Homo sapiens: one gene and its partner. The protein of the gene in region 2 purifies or fractionates together with the protein of the main gene of each other region. This does not show direct contact. Each region holds a gene or a part of one and is shown on either strand. Other genes may lie near its edges. The genes, in order: LYPLAL1 and ALDH4A1.

Region 1 (7,976 bases), about 200 Mb from region 2:
ATCATTTTACAGATGAAATTGAGACCTAAAACAGAGCAGCAATTTGGGTTAACAGAAATAGAGCTCCACTGAGAATTAGGAGACCTGAATTTCTTGTCTTGACCTGCAAGCTGTGGGAAAGTCTTTAACTCCTCTATTGCTATTATTAAATACCAGTAACAACTTCTCGGCTTACTTCACAAAGCTCTTGTGATGATCAAATGAAATAATGTGAAACCGGTTTATAAACCTAGAGTATTAATGTTATTCCGTGGAAAATTACATAAACACAAATATCTTTGGAAAGGTAATTTAAACAAAGTTGTAGAAAAGATAAAATAACATTATGCTAAGTCCTTTCATGTTTTTTCATTGTCCTTATTTATATTAGTTTAGAATACTTTATTTCAAAAATTTAAAAGTTTAAATACTTAAAAGGTTTCCAAATATTTACAGAATTGTGTCTGAAAAATTATGCACAGATGTTTGTCTATTGTTTTTCATTAATAAGATTAGCTACTGTCTACAGTGATAAGCATTTTAATAATAAAAAAGTCAGGAAAGTGTTATTTCTTAATATTTTAATTATCATTATAATTTGGCAGTAAAAATCACTTTTCACAAAGACATTACACTTACATTAACAAATCACTCTTGATTCATTCATTTTTGTTTTTCCATTTCTCCTGGCAGCTTTGTAAGAATCCATAACTTCAATATGTCTAACTCAGTTTTGCTTAGCTCATGGTAAACATTTGGAAAACTATGAAACTTCGTGGTCACTCCTAGAGATTTTAACATTGAGTTTGTCTCTTCTGCCCAAGAATGAAGAACTAACTCATCTGCAGTACCATGACACTGAAATAATTCAGGAAGTACACCATTACTCTTCTGAAGAGCCTAGAGAAGAAGATACAAAGACAGAAAAGTTTAAGAAATTCCATTTAAGATCATTCTTAGAAATCAGAGAGAACAGGAAAATTCCAATTTTACCAAGGCTTCAATAACTAATGGGAAAAAAAAGGCAGAGGGAGTGCTGTCTGAGGTATACATTGGTGGGCCAGGCCTGGGGACTTAGCTGGTTCCTGGCATCACTCAATTTGTAACTGTGTGTCACTTACATTTATTCTATAGAGGACGTCTTAAAAATGGCCAAAGCATTTCCTAAAGAAACTAAGTGACTTGGGAAGACAGACCTCTTCACACAATGTGGAAGGAGGGAGGAGTACACAGCTAAGGCACAATCAAGGGGACAATTACATTTTAGTTCTCTATTCTGTATCTGCTTTAACATTTCCACTTCTGGTACTGAAGCTGTAACATTATAATTGAAGCTGCATCATATTCATAGATGAGGATATTGCTGCATAATAAGTATGTGCTATGTAATTGATTTTTGTTTTATGTTCATGATGCAATAAGCAAACCCAGCTATAACCATCATGCAGTTTTAATATGTATAAAATTTACATATATGCTCCCCCACAACCACACACATGATTATCCTTTCCTCCTTGACATTTTGCTTAACAATATTTCTTGTACAGGGGATTTCCAAAACATTAATGATCAGCTGGAATTTAATCACTACGACTCATTTGGCCATGAATTCCAGGAATGGTCAATCCATATCAACTGTGCATCAACTGTGTGTGTGTTTTACAGCTTTATTACCGATTTTGCTTTAGTTTTAACATGTATATATTTCATATTTTTTTCATTTTTTTTTAAATCTGGAACTTACCTGGTAAACAGCAGATGCTTTATTCAGAAAACTAGAAAGAGCAAATACTCCTGCCACATCTTGATGATTTCTATATGCTAAATGTATTGCCATGCATCCTCCCATAGAGAATCCTCCTAAAAACAAAAACATACTTAAAAGTAGAATACATAAAATAATAATTTAGGATATGATATATAACAATTTTCCATATTTTTAAAATATCTGGAGACCTTTAAAGAGAATGCTAAAAAGAAATTTCGTCTACTCTAAGTTTCACAGACAAAGGCCTGCGATAACATAAATAACCCTGTTCCCTCTATGTCACCACTGGTAAAGAGAGCTGTGCTCTACAAGGAGCCAGGATTAAACAAATATATCATGTTCACCAAGTAAAATATCTATCGTAATTCAAAATGAGTCATATTACAAGCATTACTTAAATTCTCAATATTTACTTATATTTTGTTTACACGTACAGAAACCCTCACACTGCAACGCAATTAATAATTTGCACCTTTTTGTCTTACTTGCTAAGCTGTGAGCTCCATAAGGAGTTATGTATCTGGTGTTTGCTATATAATAGATGCTTAGTGAATTCTGAATTAAGAATGATAAAAAAAATTTGAGGAGCTAGTTAACACATTTTTGGATTACAATATTATTTTGGAAACTAATTTATGGTGATATAATAAAAATGAAACATGTATGCCTATATGTAGTTTTTAAAACCAAAGTTTGAAAAAAAAATTAGTCAAACTGTTATTGTCTCTTTAATGTACCAATTCTATGCCAGTCACTGGATATATGCAGATTAAAATACACAGACCCTCCTGTTCAGGGGAACTTTGAGAAGGAAACACATCCAACACAGAATATGGAGATAGCTGTTATGAGGTGACGGCAGCAGAGAGAATGGTGATTCCAGGCCTGACGACAAGTCAGTGACTCAGTGTGACATTCCTAAGCTTGAGAGAAAGCTAAATGACATCTCATTATATTCCATGAGAAAATACAGAATGTAAATCATGTAGCCACACACTCATAGAAATACAAAAATATACTTTGAAGTAGAATTCAAATCTCCTAATTTCAAGTCTGCTGCTTTATTTCACTTAACAAAGTGTAAAGCTGAGCTCTTAAGAGACCATAAATTTGAATTTACTACAATAATCTTTTATACATGGAGGGAACTGAGGCCCAAGATTAGGTACATATTATTTTAAATATAAAACTATTAATAGTAATTTTGGAATTCGGATCTTTTGCAATAGAGTTTAATATACTTTCTACTATCCCTTGATATTTATTAAAATAGGACTACTTTATCTGGAATAGGCAGGTAATATTATTTTGGACTCAGAACACAAATACCCGAGAGAAGATTACCAGTCTGGCAAAGTTTAGATTTTTTAAAAAAGGCACACTATGTAAATAATGAATAAAAGTTATCTGTGATTTTCAACATACCAGCAAGAAATAATAAGTTCTTATCGTAGCAGTAGCCCACCATGGACAAGAGCCACCTGAAAGGCTCTTTCAAAATACCCCCAATAACTCCAGATGTAGATACATCTAATTAGAAGTTCATAAATGAGCTTGGTGGGGGAGAAAAAAGCATAAGCATCTTAACACTGTATGTAAAATTTGCAAATGTACATTAGATTCTCCAAAAGGTTAAAAGCCACTGGGCTACATTATCCATGAATTTGTGCATTAATAAATCTTTGACATGTCCCATTTAGATATGAACAGCTTACGTAAATACACAAATTAGTATTTCTGGTAAACATTTATTGTAAGTACACAGAAAAAAATCTCAACTTTATTGTTTTTTGCCACAATTCTAGTTACAGATTTCTCTCTGCTTATGAAGTTTTCTCTTTAATAACATCATGAGGGTTGTAAAGCGAAGACATTTTGAAATAAAATTCTTATCGATTTAATTTATTGAATATAAATTATTGAGATTTTGAAACCCTTAAGGGTAAGAAACAGTTTTTCTTCAATAATCATATTTTCATTGAGTGCTTATGATTAGCTGAACAAAGTGTCTCTGTGGTGCACGCATACTAATGAGTCAGTTTCAACTTTACACGCTCAGTGGTAAGTATAGTGCTTTGCACATAGCAGTAACTCAATAAAAATTTAACTGAATTTTTAGAAACCGTATGGGTTTCTAATGAAAGTAGTAAAAAATTTACAAATATCTCTTAAGCTTATCAAAGAGACAACATTAAGGAAACTAGTTCTAGTCCTGCCTGTGATACTCCCAAGCTGAATGTCTTTGTGTAAATTATTTAAAATGCTGGATTTCATTTATAGTAAAACAAGATAGATGGACTAATCTCTAGATTTTCCACCAACCTTTTAAATACAAATACTTAATCAGTTATAAAAACTAAAATTGCGAGAACTTTTAAAATGTACAGTTACTGTAAATACAGAAATCTACTTTCAGTTTAAGAATCCCTATCTCTCAGAACACAATTCTAGCTTTCCTAAAAGTTCACAGAATAGAGCTTACCAAACACTCACTTCCTTCATCTCTTCCAATTTCCCCTCTGTTCTTTACAGCCCATTTACTTACAAAGGAATTTCAGGTTGCTTAAAATCAAACACACTGTTAATAATAAAACTACATCTCTAAAATAGGAGAGAATGTGAGAGAGGAAGAGATGGGATTTGAGCAAAGAGTGAGACACAGAGAATAAAAAAAGAGACTTACAGACCATGATGTTAGGGTGGGGGCAGTAATTACGTGTGCAACTGGGCATTTAACAGTTTCTCTGTAGCAAGGCAATATTCTTTAACAGAAGGAATCATAACAAGTCATACTAGAAATTTTTCTTAGCATTGAATTCCTTAATAGAATTTATTAAATGGATCTTTATTAAACATAAAATTCAAAATCAGACATTCTACATACTGCCACTTCTGTTGCTGATTCTTCTCATAAAATTCTGGGACATAAAGACTTAACTTTCACTAGAATTTAATGATGGGAGCTGGGATTTTTGTGTTTTATTCATCAATGTATCCCTCTATGCTTACAACAGTGCCTGGCACACAGAAAGTGCTTATACTTATTAAACAAATGAACAATGTAACTGTAACTCAGTAACAATATCTCTGCAAGGAGACAAATTTATCATCAGAAAATGTAGGTTTTTGGTGATTTAATTTGATATAAAAGTAAAGCTTAAAAAAACCTACAAAATCTAGGAATGAATGATTAGTGTGCTCCAAGCCCATCATTCCTAATCTGACCTCTTAAAAATAAAGATTTTAGACCCAATCCCAGACCCACTAACAAAATCTCACTGCATATGTCTAATTTTTAAAAGCTCTTATGCCATAAATCAGATGTCTGAGAATCACAGCTGTGTGGCAAATAATTCAAAATTAAGTAAAATGGGTAAAAACAAAAAGTTAAAATATGGTCACCATTTAAAGAAAATCCACACGCGATAGATAACAAGGCTGCAGGAGCAAATTTATTATTTTTTTCTGAGAAATTCAAGAGCCTGAATTATGTGTCTGCCAAATGTAACTAATTAATATTTGAAATATGTTAGTGTGACCAAGGAACCAATTCTATATTTTATTTAACTAAAGAGCAACATGTAGCTAGTGGCTACCATAGTTCTAGACCATCTAAGCTGTACGAATGATTGAAAAAAGCTTCAAAATTTATAAATGAAGCAAAAATAAAATTAGTATTTCATAGATAATTTTGAGGCTAAGATAAAGATCATTAAAAGATAAAATGTAAATAAAAGATTAGTAGGCAAAAACTTACATTAAAAAGAGATTTTAAAAGCATAACTATCAAGAAAATTTTACATATGAAGTGACAAACACTTCATTTTTGTTGACCAGGGAATGTAATCACTTTATGTAGTTTCAGAGACTTTTGATGGTAACAACTTAAAAAAAAAAAAAGAGAGAAAGAAAACATTTACCCGCACATAAAATGTCATTATGAATACACATAAATGCATCCTGCAGACATTTAACTTCATGTTTAATTCTCTTAAGTTACAATGAAGAAAAATATACTCATTGAAATATTATTATTTTAAGATTTAATCTAAGTCCCTTTCCCATTTATGATTTTGTGAGGTAATCTGCAACTCCTCACTAGCCGTCTTTGACAATACAATGACCTTTAGCATAGGACACTACTGTGAAAAGGGACTTTGTGTATTTTTTCCTAACAGAAGAAAATTTAACACAAAGAACTAGTTATTTGAATTCAATTTTCCACCTAAGAGTCTAAAAAATGATATAAAATCTACTGTTCAATAAGTAAATACGAAAATAGTAAATCCATTGTAGGTAATGGTTATAACGGGTATTTACGGTTGCTGGCAAAGTATTTAAAATGTCAAGAGTTAACATTTCAACATACACTTAAGATTAACAAGCTGAATAAAACATGTTAAAAAATAATAAACCTGGCTTTATGAACTCTTTATATAAAATAAAACAGAAACAATCTATAAAAAGACTATATTAGGAACATTAAGATAATCAATCTGAAAGTAAAATCCTTAAAAAAATCCACTTAAAGTGTGCTATCAACTGAAAAGAACTTTAAACATGCAATAAAGTCCATTACCATTCTAAATTTCAACACCTCTTCCATTTAACTGGTATACTATTATAATTATTCTTCAGATTTGGGAATACAGAAATTATGACTATTACATTTATTTGGATATCTCCTCTCATACAAAACTTGTGGGATAAACAAAATATTTATTTTCCTCTATGGAAAACTGTTAGAACAACAGTCCAGAGCCTTTAAAGTCCTACTAGTTGTTGAAGAAACATAAAATGTTTAATTAAAATACATATATGTTCAAAGAAAGTAGAAGAATGCTATCATTCTGAAGTTTTAGCTCCCAGCTGGGCTATAGAGAAAACGTGTACAAGTTCAGAAAAAGGCAGGCTGGAAATTTTGATGCTAGACTTCATCTTGGGAATTCTAACTATCCCTTCATTTATTTTTATTTTTAATCTTATTGCAAAATTAATATACACCCATTGTACAAAATGTTTCTTGTACAAAAGTTTCTTGTACAAAATTTTACAATATTTTGTACTGTACAGAATTTTGACATGTTCTCTTAAATTTCATTTTTACAGTTAAACTAACTCTACATGTTCAATGTATCTTATTTTTTTCATGTAATACTAATTTGAAAGTCTTTCTACAGAATTACAAAATTTTATAATTATTTTTAATTGAACACATACTTACTGAGTGCTTTTGTTTTTTTTGTTTTTTTTTTTTTTTGAGACGGAGTCTCGCTCTGTCGCCCAGGCCGGACTGCGGACTGCAGTGGCGCAATCTCGGCTCACTGCAAGCTCCGCTTCCCGGGTTCACGCCATTCTCCTGCCTCAGCCTCCCGAGTAGCTGGGACTACAGGCGCCCGCCACCGCGCCCGGCTAATTTTTTGTATTTGTAGTAGAGACGGGGTTTCACCTTGTTAGCCAGGATGGTCTCGATCTCCTGACCTCATGATCCACCCGCCTCGGCCTACTGAGTGCTTTTTATGTGTGTGTGCATGTAGTACTTAATGGTTACATAATACTCAATTCTATTAATAGGCCATCATTCCCTCAACCATTCCTGTCATGATGGATATTTAGATCATCCACGTAAATTACTCCAGTGTAGTTCCAGAAAGACTTGATTCTCTCTGCTTCAAAATTCTGATAATATGCTTATATTATCAAAATTCTGATAAATCTATTCATATCATTTGTCAGGTTCTATACATCCTAGATCTAAGTTAAGCCTAAATTATAACAGTATTCTCTCTTAACAACGAATTATCACCACCTAGTGGCCAATAAAGGAAGGTATTATGGGGACCCGGGTTCTAGTCCCAACTCTGTATTAGCCAGGAACACTTTGAATTTTAGTTTCTTCACCTCTGAAATGAAAATAATTATATCCTACTTTACTTTTACCTACTGCAAGACCCAGGAGATCTAATGTATATAAAAACAACTTCAGAACTTAAAACATTACCTAAATAGAAAACACTGACATGTAATGGCAATTTTAAAACTATCCAGTGCAATATAGATGCCAATTAATTTAAAGCTATCTCTACCATATGTACTTTCTAAGCACAACAATACACAAGGGAAAAATGATATACCTTTCTCCAGTTTCCTGTCTTAGACAGAAACAAACTAGAAGGAAATGAAGAGTTCAAGACAGGCTTTAATAATGATGGAGAATGTACTGACAATA
Region 2 (7,976 bases):
ACTCATTCAATTCTCATGATGACCCATGGCGGGGAGAGGGGGCGGTTACCCCATCTTATGGATGAAGAGATGGAAGGTCAGAGAGGTTGCATAACTTTGTGGCAATCATCTGGCTGGCGGGGGGGCAGTGAGCCAGGATGTGAACCCAGCCCCACCGCCTCCAACAGACAATTTCAAACATCAGCACCTACTGTTCCTTCTGTCACACTGAGAGCACTGTGCCCATGACCAGGTGACACATTGGCAATGACACCAGACTTAAAAGATGTTGGCTGCCCCCACCATCCCCTCCAGAAAGACCATCCACCACTGTGATTAAGTAACAGGCATTTTATTGGGTGGCATCTGAGCAAATCCCATTGCCACCTCACAGTGTAGAACCAGTAGAACTAAGAATACTCCAGCCTGTGCCCCCACCCAGCCACCTGCCCCGGCCCCTCATGGGAAATGACACATATCCTGGAAGGACACAGAACCCACACCCAGCCCAGCTGGCACCAGCACCCACCCCCATCCATGGGCCAGTGGCACTTGGGGAATGGCCACACCAGCTCCGGGTGGGGTCCCATGCAGGCATCCTGGAGGAAGACCCAACACTTTCACAGTCCCCTAAGAACCATCCTTGAAAGTCATGCTTTACAGATCTCTGACCACTCAGAATCCAAGCAGGAGGCATCTGTGGGAGGAATCGTGGTCACAGATTGGCTGCGTCAAAAAAAGAATGGGCCAGTGAGGGACTGGTCCACACAGAGCCACTCCCAGGCAGAGGAGGATTCTACAGGCAACGTCCTCGGCCCATGCTGACGAACCCAAGGCCAGGCCTCTGGGGGCTGGGAGAAGGGAGGGCCAATGTCTGCCTTGGCCTGTGTCACCATGGCACAGTGGTGGCTGAGCTCCTGCAGGGAAATCCCAGACCCTGAGACTGGCTCTAGGAGTGGAGGTCTCTACAGGTAGGGCCTGAGGATCAAAGGGAAGGCTGACATAGGACGAAGGCCCATCCAAGGTTTTCCAGAATCACGGCCTAAACCGGCAGGACCATCCCATCCCACGCCTTGGCAGGTGGCCTCCAGCGGCCCCCCAACCCCGCCATGTGGTGCAGACCGGGAATCACACAGGCCTCGGCCAAACACAGGCACCTGGAGTAAGGCATGCCAGCATCTAAGGTGTGTGGCTGGGGACAGGGGCCTACTGGCCCAGGTGGGTCTGGGCAAAGATACAGTGAGGAAGGTAGACAGCCCAGACCAGAGAGGGCAAGGCCAGCTGGTGCCCCCTGTGCCCCACAGGTCAGTCTGAGTTACACTTTACCCTGGACACCTGGAGGGGCAGGGATCAAGGCCAGGAGCCTCTGTGAGTGGTGAGGTTTGCCAAGGGGCCCAGAATGGCCTCCTTTTCCCCAAAGGATCCCAAGAGCTGCTCCATCTCCTTTCCCCAGGTCCCTGAGCCACTGGGCCCAGTGGAGGGCAGAGGGAGAACCTGCCAGGCACCAGGGTCATACCTCCCACATGGCCGATGGGATAAGGGGTAGTGGCCATGTTCCTCCCCAGCACGATCTCAAACCAGAGCCTGAGGCATGGGAGAGGCCAGAATACAGTGGTAAGAAGGGAGTCAAGCCCGGATTATAGAAAGGCAGCTGTGCATGAAGAAGGGGTGGAGGGGCTGGAGTGGGGTCTGTGCAGTGAGGTCGGCCACCTGGACGGACAGACAGCTGGACGGTGGAGCCCGAGAGGGGCTCACTGCATGTACGCGTAGCTCCAGTCCCCCAGGGGCTTATGTGTCTCCTTGATGACCTGCGGCGACGTCCAGCGCAGGATGTAGTGTGGGCCCCCTGGCTTGTCATTGGTTCCTGCGGAAAAGACACTTCTGTTTTTCTCTGAAAAGATGCAACAGCCTGGGCAGAAGGGGAAGGGAGGAGATGATGGAATCAACGGACCAGCAGTGTAGCGGCCAGCAGCGAGCCTGCTGCCAAGCTTGGGGCATGCAGAAGAGCCAGAGGGATGGACAGGAGACCCTGCCTCCAGTCTCCAGTCTGTGGGGAGCCTCCATTGTTCTCTCCAGTCGCACCCAGCCTTGCATCCTTGCTGGGATGCGAGGATGTCTAAGAGGCAGGGTGTGGCGTGGAGAGAACACTAGACTGAGAGGCAGGGACTTGGCATGGTCCTGGGGTGCCATAAGAGGTACATATCTAGCCTTCACCCCTGGTTCCTAGCCAGAATTCCTAAAGCTCTTGGAATTTCCAGAGTGATGGGGGTGAAAGGAGTGTCTTCCGTTATTCATAACAAGCCCCTTCTAATCACACATGAGTTTATGCTAATGAGGGCTCTTGCAGGATGGCACTGATTGGCAAAGGAACCAACCCTGTGATTAGAGGCTTGGAACCTTCAGCCCCAGGGAGGGCAGAGGGGCTGGAGGTTGAGTCGACCCCAATGGCCAATGATTGAATCAATCGTGCCTGTGTAATGCAGCCTCCATAAAAACCTAAAAGGACAGGGTCGGGAGAGCTTCCAGATTGGTGAACACGTCCACATGCCAAGGGGGTGGCACAGCCCGAACTCCAGGGGGACGGCGGTGCCCCTGCCGGGGACCCTTCCAGTCTTTGCCCTATGTGTCTGCGCATCTGGCTGTTCATCTGTATCCTTTAAAATACCCTCTGCAATACATGGGTAATAGTAAGCACGCTTCCCCTCGGTTCCGTGAGCTGTTCTAACAACGTATCAAAACTCAAGAGGGCATCATGGGAGCTTCTAATGCGTCGCAAAGTCAGACAAGGTGTGGGTAACCTGGGGTCCCAGTACTTGTGATTGGCATCTGAAGTTGGGGGGTCAGTCTTACGGGACTGAGTTCTTAACCTGTGGGGTCTGCACTAACCCCAGGCAGTGAGCATCAAGTTAAACTGTAGGACACCCAGCCAGCATCCATCAAGAGCTGGAGAACTGGTCGGTGTGGGAAACCCCAGCACGCCTGGGTTCAGCCCTGGCTCTGCCACTCAGGAGCAGTCACCTTTGGCAAGCCATTGCTCCTCCTGAGCCTCAGTTCCCCATTGTGAAGTAGAGGTTGTTGGACTTAAGGGACACTGGCTATGGTGCAGAAAGTGCGGCTGCTGGAGCCAAAATTACAATCCCACCAGGGTCATGTGGCCTTGAGCCTCAGTTTCCTCCTCTGTAAAATGGGAAGAATAGTCCCTTTGCTCACGAGTTTGCTGAAAGGACCCTGAGCTAGTGCACTTGCTTGGCCCACAATAAGTGCTCAGTAAATGGTATCCTTCCTATTACTCTGAAGCCCCTCGAGACGTAACATCTAGGGTCTCCCACCAGGAACTCAGCTCCCCTGTGGGAAGGGGGACCCACTCACCAGAGGCTCGGGCCCCCCCAAAGGGCTGCTGGCCCACTATCGAGCCAGTGGACTTGTCGTTGATGTAGAAGTTGCCGGCAGCATTCCTCAGCACCTTTGTGGCCTCCTGCACGACGTCCCTACAAAGCAGAGCAGTGGTGACAGAGCAACCAGCTCATCTCCCCTCCAGCCCCAGCTCCAGCCTCAACACCCCTGCTCCAGCCCACACTGGCTTTCCAGGTTCAACAGGAGGCCGAGTCAGGGATGAGGGATGCTGCCAGCTGTTGGCTGTGGGCCTTCGGTCAGGTTACCCAGTCTCTGAGCCCAGCTTCCTCCTCTGGGGAGGGGCTTGGCACGCCTCGTTACAGGGCTACTGCGAAGTTGAAGGGAGTGGCCTGTCCTGGTCCAATGTTCCTGTCCCTCAGGAGCAGCGGAAACTCCAGCTCCCAGGCCCACACCCTTCCTCCCTCTCCAAGCTCACCTCCACTTTCTCATAGAGGCAGACATGGGGGCAACCAGTGCCACGGAGGAAAGAAGAGGCGAAGCCTCAAGTTTAGCCTCATGTGACCCAGGTTCGAATCCTGCCTCTGCAGCCCCTGGCCTGCCCTGCTTTGTAGCATGGGACAATCACCTCACTCAGTGGGGCAACACCAGATCCCGCAGAGCCAGTCGAAGACACCAATTCCTAGCCCTGCCCCTAGAGGTTCAGATCCACTGGTCCCCAGTGGCACCCTGGCACCGGCACCACCAGTACCGGCAACAAAGAGCCTGCTGCTGTGGGCCCATGTGGCGAGCCCTGGCTGCCTGTCTGGGCTGAGGGGAGGGGACAGAGAGAAGGTAGGGGCAGCATTATTACTGGGAACCACGTCCAGGAGGTGGGGATGGGGACACGGACAGGACACCCGGAGCACAGCACCAGGGCTGCGGCCTGGCCACTCACTTATCCTGGGAGAACACTGCCCCCGTGAGGCCATAGCTGGTGGTGCTGTCAACCAGCTGCAGCGTCTCCTTGTACTTGTCATCCGGGTAGACGTACACAGACAGTACAGGCCCGAAGATCTCCTAGGAGAGAGGCCCCGGCGTCAGACCCTCCACGGGACCAGGGACCAGGGCCCTGAGCCCTCCCAGTGCCCCTGCTCTGGCTCACCCTCTCCCCAGTCCCTGGGCCTCAGTTTACACTTCAGTGTCTGCAAGAAGGGTCAGGTGTCGCCTCCTCCTGGGTTCCCTCCAGGACAGCAACGTGCCCAGCTCCCTGTCCTGTCCATCCCACCACAAGCCGGCAAAAGATGCAAACATTTTCTGGCTCTCCCTGCCAAACCCACACCCGGAGAACTAAGGGTCCAGGTCCCAGAGGCTTCCAGCAGCAGCTGGCATGAGAGTTGCCCAGAGATACCATTCCCTCCAGAAGGGTTCATGGTTCCCTCTGCCACCAAGGGGCTGGGGGGAAGATCTTCTCAGGCACACTCCAGCCCTGCACTACCAACTTGGGCAAGTGCCTTGACCTCAGTTTCTCATCTGTAAAATGGGAACAGTAACACCCACGTCATCTCAGCCAAGTGCTCAGCCACAGCTGGCCCCACAGTAAAAGTCTATCAGTGTCAGCCATTATGATGGCTGCAGTGGACGTGGTTGCTGAGGGCACTGGAAATGCTCAGACCCCAGCCAGGGTCAAGGACACAGCCCCGGATTTGGAGTTAGGCAGCCTGAGCTCAAAACCTGGCTCTACTCTCTCCCGGTCGGAGGCATTCCCTTTTAGGGTCTCCCTTTAGGGCCTCATCTGTGAAATGGGAGAATGTCTCCAGGAGAACTGTGTGTGTGCTGTGCTCCGGTGGGATTGTCCTCCTCTGGACCCCAGGCTGCCCACCCCAGTCACCTCCTTCATGATGGGCTCCTGAGGGTCCTTGCTCTCCACGATGCAGGGCTCCACAAAGTAGCCCACGGAGTCATCACACTTGCCCCCGGCCAGGATGGTGAGGCTGGGTGAGGAGCGTGCGTGCTCCAGCCACTTCTTGATACGGGCAAAGGACTGGGGTGGGCAGGGAGGAGGGAGGTCTAAGAGGCTGGGAAGGCATCCCTGCGGCAGCCCCCACAACACACTCACCCCGAAACACCTGCACCTGAAGGGCCCAACTCCTGAAACAGGGGCAGGGGTAGGGGACGCCAAGGGCAAAAGCCAGGGTCTGGCTGAGCCACAGCAGAGACAAGGACAGACATGAACACTGTGTGTGTGTGTGTGTGTACACACACAAGTGTACGTGTGTTAGTACTACAGGTGCACTCGCATATAAACACAGACACACATCAATCAATGCATATATAGGCATATGCATGGTCACATGTCTAAGCATGTAGGGATCTGCATGCCTTCTCCATGTACATGCGTGTGGGTGGACTTATCGACATATGCGTGTGTGTGCTTATGTGCAAATGGATATGTACGTGTTTATATGGAAAGACCTACATGTGGAGCCACACGGAGCCCTATATGAACACATTCACAAACACACGTGTACATGCACTCATGCAAATGCTATTAGGAGCTCGCTGAGCCTGGTTCCAGGGTGGCCGCAAGATGAGCTCTTGTCTGGCTACGGCTGATTCTGCCCTTTCTGAAGCTGGAGGTGCGTGTGTGGCTGCTGAGCTGCCTTGATCAAAGCAGTGGGGCTGGGTCATGCCCTGGGTCAGGGTACCCTGTATCTCTTCCTCCCTCTTCCACCCACTCCAGGGCTTGCCCCCACCCAGGAACGCCCACTTCCCACCCCGTACCTTGGCATCAATCACTGCAGAGAAGAAGGTCCCAAAATCCTCTGCAGGCTGGAGGCAAGGGAGGCGCCAGAAGAGACGAGTCACTGCAGGCCGAGACCAAGGGAGACCCCTCCCCGCACACCCCAGCCCCGGCTGCAGAGGAGCCTCCCAGGGACCCAATCCCATCAGCCCCCCGCTGGGCCGCGGCGGGGGTGACGGTGCCACTCACGTCGCCCACTTTGATCCGACTGTGCTCCTCCAGCAGCCGCCCTTTGATCTGCGGCCACAGCGAGTGCGGCACGTAGAGACGCGAGCACGCGGAACACTTCTGGCCACCGTACTCGAAGGCTGAGCGGAGGGTCCCGCTCACCACGCTCTCCACGTCGGCCGAGCGGTGCACGAAGTGGAAGTTCTTTCCGCCGCACTCTACAGGGGTCGGGGGTGGGGAAATGACCAGAGGAGCTGGCTCCCCCGGTTGCCCAGGGGCCCAAAACACCACCTACGCCATCCATGGCCCGGGACCAACACGAGCACGGAGCAGCCCAGAGCGGGCGGAGGCTCAGAGTGAGCGCTGGCCAACATCCCAGAGACCCACGGGCCAGGCCCATTCTCCCACTCCACAGATGAGGAAACTGAGGCCCAGGGAGGGGTGAAGGGCATCAGAGGTGATCAGGTCCAACAGCCCCATTACACTGATGGGAAAACTGAAACTACCCAACACAACAGCAGAGGACAGATGAGAACCCAAGGCCCCCGAGAGCCAGCCATTCCCAGAAGTGGGCACAGCTTTTTGTGAGGTTCTCCTGAGCCCTCGTCCACGAGGGACATTGGAGCCTACCCTATGTCGGCTGCCAGGGTTGGGCCCCTCCTCCCCACGCGTGCTGGAAACCGCTCCCCCATTTCCCCAGTGGGAGGGAGCTTCAGACAGGTCACTTCACTCTCCCGGCCTCAGTTTCCTCCCTCCGTGGGAAGCAGCAGCTAACAGCAGCTGAAAGCACTTAACAGCTGCCCAACTCTGGACGAAGTACGCTGTGCTTTGTCTGACCAAAGCCTCACAACAACCTCCCATTACTATCCCCAATTTCAAGCCAAGAAAACTGAGGCACAGAGAGATGAAGTCACCTGCTCCAGGTTGGAAAGTGGTAACCAGCGGCCTCTCTCCCTCAGGGAGGCAGGGAAGGAGGCTCTGAGAGCAGAAAGCCACACAGCTGACCCTGAGGAGCGCTCACCTTCCCTGACACCCCCATCCGAACTCCCACCAGTCCAGGAACAGGGTCCAGACTCCCCAGTGGGCCCCAATTCACGCCACAGAGAAACATGCTGGACCACCGGTCCCAGCTCTGCTGGTCACGTGCTGGCTGCAACTCTCCCTCCCTCTAGGCCTCAGCACATTCCCAAAATGTGCTCCACAAAACACTTGGTCCATGGGGGTCTTTGCAGAAACGGGGTTCCATGGCCCAATGCGTGTGGGAAACACTACATGGCAGACCTTGTCCTTGAAGATGTGCCATGCGTATTAGAGCATTCAAGGCTCTGAGAAGTTCTGCACGGGAGGAGTCCATTTTGCTTTAACACCACACATGCCAAATTTCCTTGACCATGAAACTGTTTCTTTGTGGGAAAACTTTAATATGCCAACAAGGTCCAGCCCTGCCTACGTCTCAGCCCGTCTTCTCCTACCAGCCCTCCTCCCTCCCTACTCATGGGCCTTGCTTTGTTTCTTCAAATACAAGTTCATTCCCACTTCTGGTCTCTGCATTTGCACTTGCCTCCGCTTACAGCTGCAATGCCCGACACGGCAGCCACCAGCCACGACTGGCTACTAAGATTTAACTTAATTAAAATGAAAGAAAACTAGATAATGCAGTTCCTCAGTCGCACAGGCCACCCTTCAAGGGCTCCAT

Evidence for each region.
Region 1: the proteins of ALDH4A1 (region 2) and LYPLAL1 fractionate together in Homo sapiens (co-fractionation; 2 studies listed by BioGRID). This does not show direct contact.

The regions. Positions count from the first base shown.
Region 1 is NC_000001.11:219,204,395-219,212,370, reverse strand, and holds part of LYPLAL1 (lysophospholipase-like protein 1), read right to left. Parts: intron 1,857-7,976; coding exon of another isoform or gene 1,840-1,856; coding exon 1,724-1,839; intron 880-1,723; coding exon 643-879; 3' UTR 1-642.
Region 2 is NC_000001.11:18,871,115-18,879,090, forward strand, and holds the end of ALDH4A1 (delta-1-pyrroline-5-carboxylate dehydrogenase, mitochondrial isoform a precursor), read right to left. Parts: intron 6,499-7,976; coding exon 6,302-6,498; intron 6,142-6,301; coding exon 6,094-6,141; intron 5,354-6,093; coding exon 5,201-5,353; intron 4,390-5,200; coding exon 4,268-4,389; intron 3,468-4,267; coding exon 3,349-3,467; intron 1,844-3,348; coding exon 1,731-1,843; 3' UTR 316-1,730; downstream 1-315. UniProt on the Homo sapiens protein: Irreversible conversion of delta-1-pyrroline-5-carboxylate (P5C), derived either from proline or ornithine, to glutamate. This is a necessary step in the pathway interconnecting the urea and tricarboxylic acid cycles.